Linked DNA regions of Homo sapiens: region 1 is linked to region 2. A link means that fine-mapping ties the variant in region 2 to the expression of a gene that starts in the linked region. Tissue or cell type: whole blood. Region 2 holds a variant in brackets; the other region holds the start of a gene. All regions are shown on one strand. Distances are between the middles of the regions.

Region 1 (8,102 bases), 120 kb before region 2:
TGTATAGTTTTGGCTCTTACATTTAGGTCTATGATCTATTTTGAGTTGAATTTTGTTTATTGTAACAGGAAGCATTCTAATTTCATTCTTTTGCATGTGGATATCCAGTTGTCCCAGCACCATTTGTTGAAAGACTATTCAATCCCTATTGAATTGTCTTGGCATCCTTGTTAAAAATCAATTGACCATAAATGTAAGGGTTTATTGCTGGACTCTCAATTCGATTCCTTTGATCTACATGTCTATCTTCATGCCAGTACTGCACTGTCTTCATTACTATAGTTTTACAGTAAGTGTTGAAATCAGGAAGTATAAGTCCTCCAGCTTTGTTCTTCTTTTTTGAGATAGTTTTGACTTGTCTGGGTCCCTTACATTTCCAGGCATTGCTTTTATGCTCAAGGGGGGAAATTTTTTAGAAAAAAAGAAAAAGGAAGGTAGATATTGCTGAAGGAACTGTGAAATTCATTTTGTGTTTTCTGAGTGAAACTTCTGCAATGCACCTTTTCTCTCGGATGGGGGAATTTCTCTCTCCTAAAATCCGTCCTGGTCACGGTAGATTTCCTTTTTCACTATTGAGGAACATTGTGCAGAGTATTGACTCAGCCAAGGCCTCATCCTGCCTTGAGTCACTTGGCTGGGTCAGGGGTTATTTTCACATAGGGGGTTCCACAACACCCTAATTTTTTTTTTACTCCTAGCTAAGAATGATCATACTCTATTGTTGTGGTCTCTGCACTGTTCTGATTGCACACCTCATCGGCAAATCACTTTTGCGTATGAGTTTTTGCATATTCATTTTGAGCATATAAATATATAAATATTTCATTCATTTATAAATTATATATGCTCATGATTATTACATAAACACATAAACAAAACGGAAGTTTTAGAATATGAGATAAAGTGACTAGAAATAGATGTTTCCCCACACCTCAATGGCTTTTATCTCTCTGGAGACGGCCTTCTTGGATCTTTCATGTTTACCTCTGTGTGGTCCTAGCACCCAGGCAGCCAAACAGGGCCTGGTATATAGTAGAAGCTCAATGACATTCAAAATAAAAATTTCAGGCCAGGCAGGGTGTAACTCAGGCCTGTAATCCCAGGACTTTCGGAGGCCAAGGAGGGTGGATCACTCAAGGTCAGGAGTTCAAGACTGGCCTGGCCAACATGGTGAAATCTCGTCTCTATTAAAAATACAAAAATTAGCCAGGTGTGGTGGCAGCCTCCTGTAATCCCAGCTATGGGGATGAGGGGGTACTGAGGCACGATTCCCGGAAGGCAGAAGTTGCAGCGAGCCAAGATGGCACCACTGCACTCCAGCCTGGGCGACAGATCGAGATTCTGTCTCAAAAAAGAAAAATTTCAGAGAGGCTACTATTCGTATTAAAATACACTGCTTCCGGCCGGGTGCGATGGCTCACGCCTGTAATCCCAGCACTTTGGGAGGCCGAGGCGGGTGAATCACGAGGTCAAGAGATCGAGGCCAGCCTGGCCAACAAGGTGAAACCCTGTCTCTACTAAAAATACAAAAATTAGCTGGGCGTGGTGGTGCACACCTGTAGTCCCAGCTACTCTGGAGGCTGAGACAGGAGAATCGCTTAAACCCAGGGGGCGGAAGTTGCGGTGAGCTGAGATCATGCCAGTGCATTCCAGCCTGGCCGACAGAGCAAGACTGTCTCAAAAAAAAAAAAAAAAAAAAAAAAAGATACACTGCTTCCCTAGGTTTTGCACCTAGCAAATAAAAGTTCTGCATCTATTTCCTGCTAATTGGCTATGGTTATTTTGTAGAAAGGCTGTGGGCTCTTCATCTCTCCTTGTCCTCTCTTTTACCTTTGACTTGCACCACATCTGACTTATTTATTTAGAAAATAGCAGTTGTATCATCCTTCATTTTTACTCTTCATTTCTTACTGTGTATTCAGGCAGAGTCCTAATACTAAGACCATAAAGAAGGGAAAGCAAGGTCTCTGATCAGGATGTAGCACAGTAGGATGTGAACAAAGGGCAAGGAAGCTCTAGGGTGTAAACATCTGGGATGGCTTCAGAGAGCTGGATTTTAAAAGAAGAGTGGGGAGTTGGTCAAACGGAGAAGAGAGTTAGGCTGTCCCAGTTGAACTGTGGGAGCAAAGGCAGGTGACCCAGCGCATTCTAGGAGAGGGGAAAGTTTGAGTTTGGTGTAGCTGAACACTAGGGGCAAGGGTGGTTGCATCTGTTTTAGGAAGAGCTCTCTGGCAGACCTGTGGAGTACTAGACTTTTTATTTATTTATTTATTTATTTATTTATTTATTTATTTAGAGACAGGGTCTCGCTCTGTTCTCCCAGGCTGGATTGGCACAGTCTCAGCTCACTGCATGCAATCTCCACCGCGGGGGCTCAAGTGATCCTCCCACCTCAGCTTCTCAAGTAGCTGGGACCACACGTCTGAGCCACCGCGCCCAGCTAATTTTTGTATTTTTCGTAGACACGGGGTTTTGCCGTCTACGATACTCCCAGACGGGGGCTGGGAGTATTAGACTTGAAGTTGGAAGTAGGGGTAGGCTGTTGGTTGCCTGAAGAGCAGGGCACAATTATAGTTAGAACGTGGAAACCTCTGTGCTTGGAGGCCCAAACGAAGCAGGGAAACTTTGCTTTAGTGCTCTAGCTAGCAGCATTCTTTTTTTTTAGGATCTCAGAACCTACTTTTTTTTTTTCGGTCCTGGGTTGTTCACCCTTTCCCTTTGTACCGAAGAGACACTTACACCTTTATCAGAAAATCACGGTTTATTTCCTGAGAATCACGGGGATTGGTTGGGGGTACTCTGTTTTGGGGCTCCATTTGAGGCCTGTGGCTCAATGGAAGACATAGAGGCGCTTCGCCGCACAGGTTTAATCAAGCAAGGGCTTGATAGAAGTATTCATCCCACCCCCGCCCCGATTAAATCAAACCACACGCACACAAATAGAGGCTCTGGCACATCCTGACAGAATATAGCCTCTGGGATGTCAGGAACCCCCAACCTACGGCCATTGGCGTGTCTGCACCGGCCAGGAAGCCCAGGCCCCCGGCTCCTTCCTGGATCACGCCCCTGCCCCGCCCAAGGGTGAAGAGGGGCGGGGCCAGCCGGCGCCCTCCGAGTGGGCCTTACACCAGGTCGGGCCTGGCCCGGCCCCGCGGCCCAGCGGCGCCGGTGGGCGGGGCCTCCGTCAGGGCAGTGTCAGTAACGGCGCCAGGCCCCGCCCCTCGGGGAGGCAGGGCCGGGCGGGGCGCGAGCGAGCGCGCGGGCTGGGCCGGAGCCGGCCTGGTCGCCAGCCTAACCCGGCACAGTGAGCGGAGCGCCTGGGCGGCGGCGGCGGCGGCGTGATGGCTCCGGCCGCGGACCGAGAGGGCTACTGGGGCCCCACGACCTCCACGCTGGACTGGTGCGAGGAGAACTACTCCGTGACCTGGTACATCGCCGAGTTCTGTGAGTGTGGCCTGAGGAGGGGAGTGGGGGCGAGAGGGCACCGGGCTGAGGAGACGCCGTGTGAGGAAGGCAAAGAGCGAACCTGGCCGCGAAGGGAGGTGCCAGGCCTGGCCCCGGGAGCTGGAATGCGGCGCCCTGGGCCAGCGGGAGGCTGAGAGGAGCGGGCCGGGAGTCCAGTGTGTAGAGGGAGGAGTACCGGGGTCTGGGAGGGAGGAAGGGGGCCTGAGGATTGGGGGGGCAGAAGAGCAGTGGGAAGTGGGGAGCCCCTGCTGGACCTAAGGGGGAAAGCCTGAAGAGCCGGGTTGGGAATGGGAATTCCTGCCCGAGAGCGGAGTGGGGCCAGGCTGGGAGAGTGGAGGACCCTGCCCCTTGGAATGAGGGCCCAGGACACCTGCTCTGCTGTTGCCACCACCAGAAGGGTACAGTTCCTAGCTTCGTCTTTCCCCCAATCCGTGAGAATTCTACCGTCTTTCCCTTCCCTTTTCACTGGAATATTAGACCTCCTTGCTCACCTCCAGGGAACAGTTTCACTAGTCTGAGATCTGAACCATCCCACCCCTATCCCCCAGGATGTCTTCAAGTACCAGAGGTCATCTGCTCTCTGAGTATGATTATTCAACTGTCATCTTGCACCAGGAGTCGAAGGCATCTTGCACCTAGCCTGTACCTTCTGCCCCTGCCAGGCTCCCAAGAGCACAGAGGACCAAGTCCCTGCTCCATTCTGTCCTATCCAACTATCTAGGAGTTAGGGGTCATCTGAGGACACTACTTCCACCGACTGCACCTTCTGAGGATTTAAGCATTCTTCTTTAGCGGCTGCTCTGTCAGGCACTGCTGGTCAGGTTGGGCTTGTTCTGTGTGCCTATGTGGGTGTCTGTCTGTTTTCCTAGACGATTTTTCCTGCCAGGCTAGGAGAAATCTGCCACTTCTTTTTCTATCATTTAATCAGGTTTTGAGAGCACAATATTTGATCCTTCTTTTAGGTACCTGCTTCTGGCAAAGTGCAAAGACTATCCTTTGGCTAATGATTACTGCCTTCTTTTAGTTGGATCTACTTCTCAGGACGTGAAGTGAAACTCTTCTTAGCTAACCTTCTCATTGTTGAGTCCTGTTCTCAGGCATCTGTGCATGGCTTTGTAGGAAAGAGGCAAGCATATCATGACAAATGGTCCCACTTTATTCTGTTCTGGTAATTGGCTAAGTTTCAAAAAAAAAAAAAAAGAACACTTTTTGCAGTTTTCAGGACTTTAGTACTATTCTCTTATGACCATGATTTAGGCTAAGAGTCACTTTTCTTCAACTATTAAATTAATAATTTTTACATAATCATGGAGAAATATTGGCAAAGGGATCATTTGTAATACAATTACTTGGGAACCCACATGTTGGCAAAGGAAGCGCTTTACCAGTTTGTTGTTAGATCACTTTGGCAAGCCCATGCCTGGTCCAGAGAACCATGACCACGAGGAAAGAGATGTAAAACCATGCACTCTGCGCTGGAAATGTGTAACATGGAAAAGAGGAATTCAAGAGTCTTCAAATATTGGATGGGCTATCATATAGAATAATTTTTTTTTAATTTATTTGGAATCTGGAATTAGGGCATATGGGCAGAAACTAACTGTAATGGGGAAAAGTTTGCTTCAATATAAGGAAAAACCTTCTCACCAATGATATGGGAAAGGTTGACTTGGGGGACAGAGGACTTTCTGTCACTGAAAGTGTTAAATCAGACATTGTTCAATGAACTCAATATTTTCGAAGGAAAAAATTATTTAATAGAGAAAAGGGGCTGGCCTTAGTTGCAGCTTTATGGGTCTATGTAGGTAATAATGACTCTTAGTTTAGAACCAAGAAAAAACTGGGCTGGGCATCGTGGCCCATGCCTGTAATCCCAGCACTTTGGGAGGCCAAGGCAGGAGGACTGCTTGAGGCCAGGAGTTTGAGTCCAGCCTGGGCAACATAGTGAGACCCTGTCTCCATAAAAAATAAAAAAAATTAGATATGCATGGTGGTTTGTGCCTGTAGTCCCAGCTACTTAGGAGACTGAGGTGGGAAGATCACTTGAGCCCAGGAGTTCAAGGTTGCTGTGAGCTGTAATTATGCCACTGCACTCCAGCCTGGGCAAGAGTTAGACCCTATTTCTACAAAAAAAATATAAAAAATGCAAAGAGAGAAAACTGGCGGTAAGTCATGTGGACTCTGAGAGAGCAAGATACTGTGTTCTGGCAGATAGCTCTGAGAAATGGGAAATGACATTTGTTCTCAATGTGCTCAGAAGAGGAAACTCTGAGCAGACTGCAGGGAGGGTTTTGACATAGGAATCAGAGGGGTTGCAAGAAGAGGATGAGTGAATGTTTGCAGCCCTTTGCGCATGCACCTTGGGAGAAAATCATCTGGAGGAAGTTGAGGTCAAGTCATCTTACCATAGCAAGTCATGAGTATCTACAGTAATATATCTTGGACTAAGATAATTTGATCTTTGAAAAATATGCTGATTAATAATAATATGTTTAAAATATGTGTTTAAAGCAAGTGCAATATTAACATCACGATAGTATTTACATTAACAATAGTATTGATGGTAATATTAAGGATAATGTAATAATAGCTATTATCTAAGTGGTCACTTGTACTACACTTTGCTAAGCACTTCATATATCTTATCTCTTTTGATCTTTACAGTAATTTCAAAAAGAAGGTATTATTATCCCCATTTCAAAGATAAGGAGATTGAAGTTCTAAGAAATAATTTACCTAAGATTACAGTAAGTGATGTAGAGATAGTGTTCACATTGAAGTCTGACTCTAAAGCTACTATCCATGTTACCTCTCCATCATTACTTCTATCACACATTCATTGTTTTGCCCCTATATTCAAGAAAGGAAGACAGATATGAAATACTATGCTATCACACAGGACAAATTGAACAACTATTCAGTTTACTCAACCATCTTTCAACTATCTTTCAGCATTAGAATATATGTATTTTAGGGAATAATGAAGTGTTTGGGGAATTGCATATTCAGATATGGCAGTAGTTCTCAGTCACTTTCAGCACCCGAAAACTGTCTTCCTAGCATCAGCCAAGATCAGTTTAAATTCCTTTTGTTTGAGCATATTGTAAAGACCAGAGGAAAAGGTCTCTCATTGTGAAATAATAAGCCCCTTGACCTGCCAGAAGTTAGAGGTACAGGCAGTCCTTGCTTTGCATCATAGTGTGGGACCACACAAATGACTGTGCAAGTTAAAACCAGGTAACACTATGTTAATAATCAATGGGAAAAGTTATGATTGTTCTGTGATCTTTAAAACTTTTTGTCAAACATTGTAAACTCTCTTACTGTTGGTTATGAATATGTAGGGAAATGAAAAAAGTAAGCATATTTATTTAGTATACTTTAAAACATTAAAAACATTGAGAAATAAACTATTTTGTTTATAAAAATCACTTATCAAGAGTAATTAAAACAGTGCTTGCCTTTTTGTCACATAACTCATAATATGGAATGGGTATTTTTTTTTTTTTTTTTTTTTGAGGTAGAGTCTCGCTCTGTTGCCTAGGCTGGAATGCAGTGTCGCGATCTCGGCTCACTGCAACCTCCACCCCCTGGGTTCAAGCAGTTCTCCTGCCTCAGCCTCCCAAGTAGCTGGGATTACAGGCGCATGCCACCACGCCTGGCTAATTTTTGTATTTTTAGTGGAGACGGGGTTTCACCATTTTGGCCAGGCTGGTCTCGAACTCCTGACCTCAAGTGATCCACCTGTTCAGCCTCCCAAAGTGCTGGGATTACAGGCGTGAACTTCCATGCCCAGTTGTCTTTTTTCTTTTAAATTAATTTTTTTTTTTTTTTTTTTTTAGCCAGCTACAGCTACACTAATGAGGGCCAACAGGTTTTTGGATTTTTCTTGAGACAAGGTCTCCCTCTGTTGCTTAGGCTGGAGTGCAGTGGCACAATCACAGCTCACTGCAGCCTCGACCTCCCAGGCTCAAGTGATCCTGCCACCTCAGTACCCCATAGCTGGGACTACAGGCGTGTGCCACCATGCCCAGCTAATTTTTTTTTTTTTTTTTTGGATTTTTAGTAGAGACAGGGTTTTGCCATGTTGCCCAAGCTGGTCTCAAACTCCTGAGCTCAAGCAGTCCTCCCACCTCAGCCTCCCAAAGTGTTGAGAATATAGGCATGAGCCACCATGCCCAGCCGGGATGAGTACTATCCCTTCATGAATTCTTTTCTAATTTGTATCAGCTTCCAAAATTTATCCTTTGCACTTTTAAGATTGTGAAATCTCTCCAAGAGTTCCTTTAATGCAAAGTTTTTTTTGTTAGCATAATTTCTCCTGGGACATCTTTATCCTTTTCACCACAACTACTTTATGCATTTACGTTGATAAGTTTGCCTTCTCTTTCTCTGAATTCCTCAGATTGCATTTTTTTTTTTTTTCCAGACGGAATCTCGCTCTGTCACCCAGGCTGGAGTGCAGTGGCGCAATCTTGGCTCACTGCAACCTCCAGCTCCTGGGTTCAAGCAATTCTCGTGCCTCAGCCACCCACATAACTGGGATTACAGGAGTGCACCACCATGCCCAGCTAATTTTTGTATTTGTAGTAGAGACGGGGTTTCACCATGTTGGCCAGGCTGGTCTCAAATGCCTG
Region 2 (8,102 bases):
GATATTCAAGCCTGTTATCTATCTTTGTTTCTTACAGCTATTGGATGAACTCCCAATGATATACAGCTGTTGCATATTTGTGTACTGCATGTAAGTACTTTTAAAATTTCATTGTTTGATTTATTTTTAAATTTATATTTACCTCATAGTGGATTAATATAACTGATACATTTATATTACTAGGATATTTTAATAATGTAGAAGATTATAAATTTTATGATATCAATATAGAGTATAATTTCTGGGAAGTTACAATAATGTTGTTTATTAACTTTTGTGATCTCAAAACCCTGTAGCCAATTTAGATAGGATCTAAATAGCTTAAATTCCATAATTTTCCTTTCCCAAGTGAATAATGTGTACAAATTTAGATAAAGATTTTCATATTGTGCCATAAAAGTTTTCAGATACAGTTTCTGTATTCTACAATATAGTTTAACAAGACGCTTACCAGAAAAGTGAGGTACACTTCTAGTTGTATAGTGATCGTGTCAACTTAATCTCCTTTTTGTTTGAAGTTATCTTTTAAATAGATACTTGCTTTCTTATTCTAAGGTAGACTAAATGCTCTCAAGAATATACTTATTTTGATTGGTTATTTACAAATATGGAAACAGCTTACAGGCCATTCCCAATCCAAAGTTCTCTTACTGTATTATATTCTGTTTACTTTATTATCAAGTTAATTTGCATTTCCTGAATGTCAAGGAAAAAATCAATCTTGAAAGATAAAAATGATTATGATAGTAACATTAATAAATGCTAATATGTAACTGCTTTGTACTGTGCTAGGCAGTGTACAATGCCATCTCTAATTCTCAACAACTATGCAAGATAAATGGGTATTGGCCCCATTTTATAGACAAGGAAGTAAAGCACAGAGAGATGTAGTAACTTGTCTATGGACAAAAACAGAACTTGATTTAAAAGCATACTGGCCAGGCCATTGTCCAGGTAAACAGTCTCTAAGGAACACTGAAATATCCCTGGAAATATATCATGATGGAGAAAATTACAATGATCACAATTCCTCTCAAGGAGAGGTTGGAAGAACACTTTGATAGGCTGCCTGGGTATGTGGTAGAAGTGTAGAAGTGAGACCCTTCCTGTACTGCATGATCAAATAATGTGCCTTCTAAGGAGGGTGGGTGAGGTTAGCTATAGGTCTTCTATTTGAGTAAGTTAGGGTATGCAGGTTTGGGCTCTAGCTAAGTCACTGGGAACATTAGAGGAAAGCCTCCTTCACCCATTACCCTGCAACATCAGCCTTCTCTAAATGTTGGACAAGTATGTTAAGAATATGTGTTTGGAGGGGCAAAAAAATTACTAGCTTATGTAGGGACCCACATGCCTGAGTCAGGCCCTAGTAACGAGGCTTTTGAGGGCAGCAGTAGCCCAGTTAGAGCAGCCACTGCAAAGATGCTGGCTGCAGCAGGGGAGGCAGTGCTGGTGGGGGCCGGGAACAGGTGGGAACCCCGTCCCCTACTGAGTTGGTGGGGCAGGAGCCCCACACTCCCGGGCACAGCTGCAGATGCCCAGCCATGGCTCTGGACCTGGGCATCCCTGCACTCTTGGAGTTCCAGGAAACCCCTTGCCCCTGCAGGCTTGAAAGTGCCTGCTCCCACTGCCTGGCTTCTCTCCGCTCCCAGCTCCCACTCCAGGGCAGAGCAAAGCTGTGGCCGAGCCCGGGTGCTGCCACAACTTGGCCAGGTGTGCATGTGCTTGGGGTGGTGCTGACATGCCAGCCCCCTGCCACCTCCGCCCCCTCTGGACTTTAGGCACTGACAAGCATGGGAGGGAGGCCGAGGCGGGGACTGAGGGCAGCTTGGTGTGGGCCTGCAGGCACCCCTCGGCAAGAACAGCCTGGGCACCATGGGCCATACATTGATGGTGGCAGGAGGCAGACAGGTTCCTGGGCAGAAAGGGGCAGTCCCCGGTGAAGCTCCACCTTCAAGCCGGGGACAGCCTGAAGCCTGGGGGCCAGGCTGTCATTTCCGGGTGGAGTCTGTGGCCCAGAGTGAGAACTTACAGTGCTTTTTCCAAGCCCTCCCATGGCTGCCCATTGATCAATCAGCACTCACTTCCTCCCTCCCGAGCCCATAAAAACCCCAGACCCAGCCAGACTCACACAGATGACTGGAGGACCTACCTGCGAATAGGAGCTGCCCACTCTGGGTCTCCTCTCCACTGAGAGCTGGACATTCACTGGGATGACCTGCCTGCAGATAGGAGCCACCCACTTTGGGTCTCCCAAGAGCTGTTCTGTCACTCAATAAAGCTCCTTTCCACCTTGTTCACCCTCCAGTTGTCCGCATACCTCATTCTTCCTGGATGCAGGACAAGAACTTAGGACTTGCCAAATGGTGGGCTGAAAGAGATGTAACACAAACAGGGCTGAAACATATCCCTCTCCCCAGCTTGCCACATTGCAGGAGATAAGAAGGAGAGAAGAGCTGTGGCCCTTCAGGGAGCCCAGACCTAGGGGCTCCGCGAGCCAGGGCTGTGACACCCTTTTGGGGGCTTGGTGGTTTCTGGCATCTCCCAGTTTCCAGGCACCACTGCATTCCCCTTGTCCAGATGGGGGTGCCCACAGTGGAAGATGCTTACGGTGTATCTGATCAAACCGCAGGCTTACATGGAGCCAGTGCCTATGCTGGCTTCTGGAGCTGCCTGCCCTGCTGCAGTAGCCAGTGTGCCTGGCTGTGCACAGTGGCTAGACCCCAAGCTTGCTCATTAAACACTTCTCACTGCTCCATTCCTGGCTTCCCCTTGGCAGGCATGGGATCCAGGCTGGTAGCATGAGCCAAGTGCAGCCTGCCAGGCCGAGTGGGCAGAATGAGCCCAGTGGGCCAGAACAAAACTTGGGCAAAGGTGCCACCAGCCACAGAGGTTTCTGGCTAGAAAAGCAACACCCTAAGGATCCTGAGACACTTTTAAGTGGTGGAGCCACAATTCAAAGCAGTTCATATCTGACTTCTACTTCCTAATACCTCTCTCAAAGTTAATGGTACACACTAAAGTAATTGAAAGATTTTTTTCTTTTATTTTTAGTTAGCTATAACCAACTATATCACTGTTGGCTCTGACCTTTACTAAAACTGATCTTTATCCAGAAACAATAAAAGTAAGAATGCCCATCTAGCTGCTATGACCCATATGGTGTCAAGCCCTATTTCAAAGTTAGGTAAGAAGATATAGAACAGCAGCCTGGCCAACATGGTGAAAACCTGTCTCTGCTAAAAATACAAAAAATTAGCCAGGCGTGGTGATGTGTGCCTGTAGTCCCAGCTACTCGAGAGGCTAAGGTGGGAGAATCGCTTGAACCCAGGAGGCAGAAGCTGCAGTGAGCTGAGATGGCACCACTACACTCCAGCCTGGGTGACAGAGTGAGACCCTGTCCCCCCCAGAAAAAAAGATATAGAACGGGGATCAGAAAACTTTTTCTGTAAAGGGCCAGATGATAAATATTTTAGGCTTTGTAGGACAGGAGTCTCTGTTGCAGCTCTTCAACTCTGCTATTGTAGCTTGGAAGCTGCCACAGATAATATGTAAATAAATGAGTGTGACTATGTTCCAGTAACATTTTAT[T/TA]AAAAAAAAAACAGGTTTAGCTGGGCACAGTGCTCACAAATGTAATCCCAGCACTTTTGGAGGCCAAGGTGGGAGGATCGCTTGAGCCCAGGAGTTCAAGATAAGCCTGGGCAACATAGGGAGACCTTATCTCTACAAAAATTACAAAATTAGCCAGGCATGGTAGTGCATGCCTGTAATTTCAGCTACTTGGGAGGCTGAGGTGGGAGAATCACTTGGGCCCTGGAGGTTGAGGCTGCAGTGAACCATGATTGTGCCACTGCACTTCAGCCTGGGAAACAGAGGGAGACCCTGTCTCAAGAAAAACAAAAACCAATACCAAACTAACAAAAAAAAACAGGCTCAGGCCAAGAGATTGGCTCTTGAGCCATAGTTTGTCACCTTGGTCTAAAAAAATAAGGTAAACTCCTTTTAATAACATATTTTAAAAACTATTCTGATGTTTATATATCTTTAGGAGAAGATATTCTTGAGCTAGCAATTATGACTATACTGAAAAGAATCAGATAACCATCATATAATGGGTACAAAGAACTCTTAAGTATTAGTGCTAGGAGCTGGGCATAGTTGCTCACATCTGTAATACCAGCACTTTGGAAGGCCAAGGCAGGAGTATTACTTGAGCCCAGGAGTTCAAGACCAGCCTGGGCAGTATAGTGAGACCCTGTCACTACAAAAAAATTAAAAAATTAGCTTGCATGATGGTGCACACCTCTGTCCCAGCTACACAGGAGGCTAAGGCAGAAGGACTGCCTGAGCCCCAGGAGGTTGAGGTTGCAATGAGCCACGATTGTGCTGCTACTGCACTCTACCTAGGGGACAGAGCAAGACCCTGTCTCAAAAAAAAAAGAAAAAGAAAAATAGTTTTAGTGCTAGGGAACAGCAGATATTACTTAGAAGGATACTGATAATGTAGATCAATTTTCAGCTCTGATATTTAGTAACTGAATGAGCTTAAGTAAGTCAACCTTTGTTCCTTCGTTTGTAAAAGTGGAGATTATAGTACTTATAAATTTCCCATGAAGATTAAAATAAATGATTTGTTTATAAAATAAACTTATTGTATGCTATTCATGTATCATGCACTGTGATAGGCTCTAGGAACTGGGAAATTAAGTAAGAAATAGTCCTTTTACCTCAAGAAATTTGTAGTTTAGTAAAAGAAACAGAACCAGAAACAAGCAGCTTTCATGTGATGTGATTAATACTATACCTGAGACATACAAAGTTCAGTGGAGTAGAAAGGGATAGAGCTTGCCATTATATGAAAATGGAGCATGGTGTCCTGTCATAGTGAATTAAACATAAGTTTCATCATTGCTACCACCTCAGAGTATAAAAAAGAATATATAAAAAGAGCATGCAAAGCTTTTGTTTCTCAAAAACTATGTCTCTGGATTCTAATCTTTCCTCAGCAATCTTCTGCACTATCTGTTTATGATCATATTCCCCCATTCAGAAAGAGCCTGCTGTAGTACACTTTAAGTGACACTTAGAAGGAAATGAAAGGGGTGAAATAATTTTTAATCCACTGTATTGACACACAGTTTACATGGAATAAAATGCACCCAGTTTAAGTGTATGGTTTGATGAGTTTTGACAAATGTATACTCCTATTTACCCATTACCCTTATGGCAAGAAAGAGAAACAGAACATTTCTATCACATTAGAACATTCTTTTCTGACCCATTGCAGTTAATACTGACACCTACCCTGGCCTCCAGGCCACCACTGATCTACTTTCTATAATTATAGATTAGTTTGTCTGCTCTGGAATTTTATATAAAAGAAATTATACCATATGTACTCTTTTGTAACTGGATTCTTTTATTCAGTATAATATTTTTTGAGGGCACTAATTTGCCAATTACTTTTGATGAATATATTCATGTATGTTGTTACATATATCATTAGTAGTATTCCATTTTATACTGTTTACCAATGTTGAACATTAAGGTTATTGCCAGTTTGGGGCTACTATGAATAAAGGGACCATGGACATCTGTTAACAAGTCTTTGTATGGATATATGACTTCATTTCTCTTGGGTATATACCTAGAAGTGGAATTTCTATGTTGTATGGTAAGTATATGTTTTACTTTATAGGAAACTGCCAAACTGTTTTTCAATTTAGTTGCACCTTATTATTGTTCTACTGGCAATATATGAAACTTCCATTTGCTCCATATACTTGCCAAGACTTGGTATTATCAGTCTTTTTTATTTTAGTCATTCTAGTGAGTATGATATACTATCTCTGTGGTGTTTTAATTTGTATTTTCTTAGTGACTAATGATGTGCATCTTTTTTTATTCTAATTGTCCATTTGTATGTGTTATATTAAGAACTATCTATTCAATCTATTCAAACCTTTTTCCTTTTTTTTTTTTTTTTTGAGACAGAGTCTCGCTCTGTCGCCACTCTGGAGTGCAGTGGTGCGATCTCGGCTCACTGCAACCTCTGCCTCCCGGGTTCAAGTGATTCTCCTGCCTCAGCCTCCCAAGTAGCTGGGACTACAGGCACCCGCCACCACCTCCAGCTAATTTTTGTATTTTTAGTAGAGATGGGGTTTCACCATGTTGGCCAGGATGGTCTCGATCTCTTGACCTTGTGATCCGCCTGCCTTGGCCTCCCAAAGTGCTGGGATTACAGGCATGAGCCACTGTACCCAGCCCCCATTTTTATAAAATAGCTTTTTTTCTTTTTGAATTGTAAAAATTCTTTATCTATTTTGGGTTCAAGTCCTGTCAGATATTTGTATTTTAAATATTTTTCCAGTCTGTGAATTGTCTTTTCATTTAATGTCTCTTGAAGAACAGAAGTTTTAAATTGTTATAAAATCCAATTTATTTTTTAAATGTTCATGAATAGTGTTTTTGTGTCATAAGAGATCTTTGCCTTCCCAGGATCAAAAATATTTTGTTTGTTTATTTTTTCTAGAAGTCTTATAACTTTATTTTACATTTAGGTCCATGATCTATTTTGAGTTAGTTTTGTCAAAGATCATGTTTTCCTTACCAGTATCTAGTTGTTCCAGAACCATCTTTTGAGATTATTCTTTCTGCATTAAATTATCTTGACTTTTTTCTCAATTCTGTTTTATTGATCACTGCGTGTATCCTCATACTGTCTAGTTACTGTAGCTTTATTGTAAATCTTGAAGTCAGTTAGAATAAGTCCTTCACTTTTGTTCTTTTTCAGTATAGCTTTGGAAATTTTAGTTCCTTTGCATTTCCACATAAATTTTAGAGTCAGCTTGTCAATTTTTACAAAATAGCCTGCTGGAAGATTGACTGTAATTTCTTCGACTCTATAGACCAGTTTGAGGAAAGTTAATATCTTAACATTACTAAGTCTCCCAAACCATGAATGTGGTTCTTTAATTTATCCAAGTGACTTTTTGTGATTTTAAGTGAATTGATCTTTGTTAAATTTAGCCCTATGTTTTTCATGGTTAGGATGCTATTTTCAATAGTATTGCTTTTTTTTCTTTTTTGACATGGGGTCTGGCTCTCACCCAGGCTGGAGGGCATTGGCACGATCTTGGCTCACTGCAATCTCCTCATCCCAGGCTCAAGCCATCCTCCTACTTAGCCTCTCAAGTAGCTGCGACTACAAGTGCGCTCCACCATGCCCAGCTAATTTTTGAATTTTTGTAGAGACGAGATTTTGCCATGTTGCCCAAGCTGGTCTCGAACTCCTGACCTCAAGCAATCTTCCTGCCTCAGCCTCCCAAAGTGCTGGAATTACAGGCGTAAGCCACTGCACTTGACCACAGTATTGCTTTTTAAAAGCTTTATATTCCAATTGTTCATAGCCAGCATTTAGAAATATAAGTGATTTTTGTATATTGACCTTTTATCTTATCACTTTGATAACTTATTCATTTTTCTGTTGATTCCTTAGGATATTCTTTGAACATATCAAATATGTGAAGCAGTCTAGACCTCTAATGATTTTTTTTTTTTTTGAGACAGTCTCACACTGTCGCCCAGGCTGGAGTGCAATGGCGCAATCTTGGCTCACTGCAACCTCTGCCTCCCGGATTCACGCGATTCTCCTGCCTCAGCCTCCCGAGTAGCTGGGATTACAGGCATACACCTGCAACGACTAATTTTTTTGTATTTTTAGTAGAGATGGGGTTTCACTGTGTTGGCCAGACTGGTCTCGAACTCCTGACCTTGTGATCTACCCACCTCGGCCTCCCAAAGTGCTGGGATTACAGGCGTGAGCCACCGCACCTGGGCTCTAATGATTTTTAAATCTGTCTTGCCTTCTGTGTGCTTGTTCATTTGTGAAACATGTACTGGAAAACCTCCTTTATTTTAGGCATGATCCTAGGCTCTGTAGATACAGAATCAGGAACTCATTGTCTGAGGAAGGGGACAGATAAGAAAGTGACTATATGTAATAAAGTGAAATAACCATGGTAATAAATACAAGCCAGGCCTCCTAAAGACCTTTGGTTTCTTAACAGATAACTTGCTTTTGAATTTGGAATAATAGAGTTTAA

The links. PIP is the estimated chance that this variant, and not a neighbour inherited with it, causes the effect.
Region 1: ACER3 starts here. The variant in region 2 is fine-mapped to the expression of ACER3 in whole blood (INTERVAL, PIP above 0.99).

The regions. Positions count from the first base shown.
Region 1 is chr11:76,857,636-76,865,737 of GRCh38, forward strand. It overlaps ACER3 (alkaline ceramidase 3), which reads left to right and starts at 3,283. Exons shown (of 11, transcript NM_018367.7): 1 at 3,283-3,444. The coding sequence starts at 3,342. RefSeq lists silencers at 2,956-3,055, 3,096-3,355.
Region 2 is chr11:76,976,252-76,984,353 of GRCh38, forward strand. ACER3 (alkaline ceramidase 3) reads left to right here. Exons shown (of 11, transcript NM_018367.7): 4 at 38-90. All of the region lies in intron 1 of ACER3-AS1 (ACER antisense RNA 1), which reads right to left. Among named protein-coding and RNA genes, the nearest start is that of B3GNT6, 54 kb to the right of the region's middle. The variant T/TA (reference allele first, on the strand shown) is at 3,589.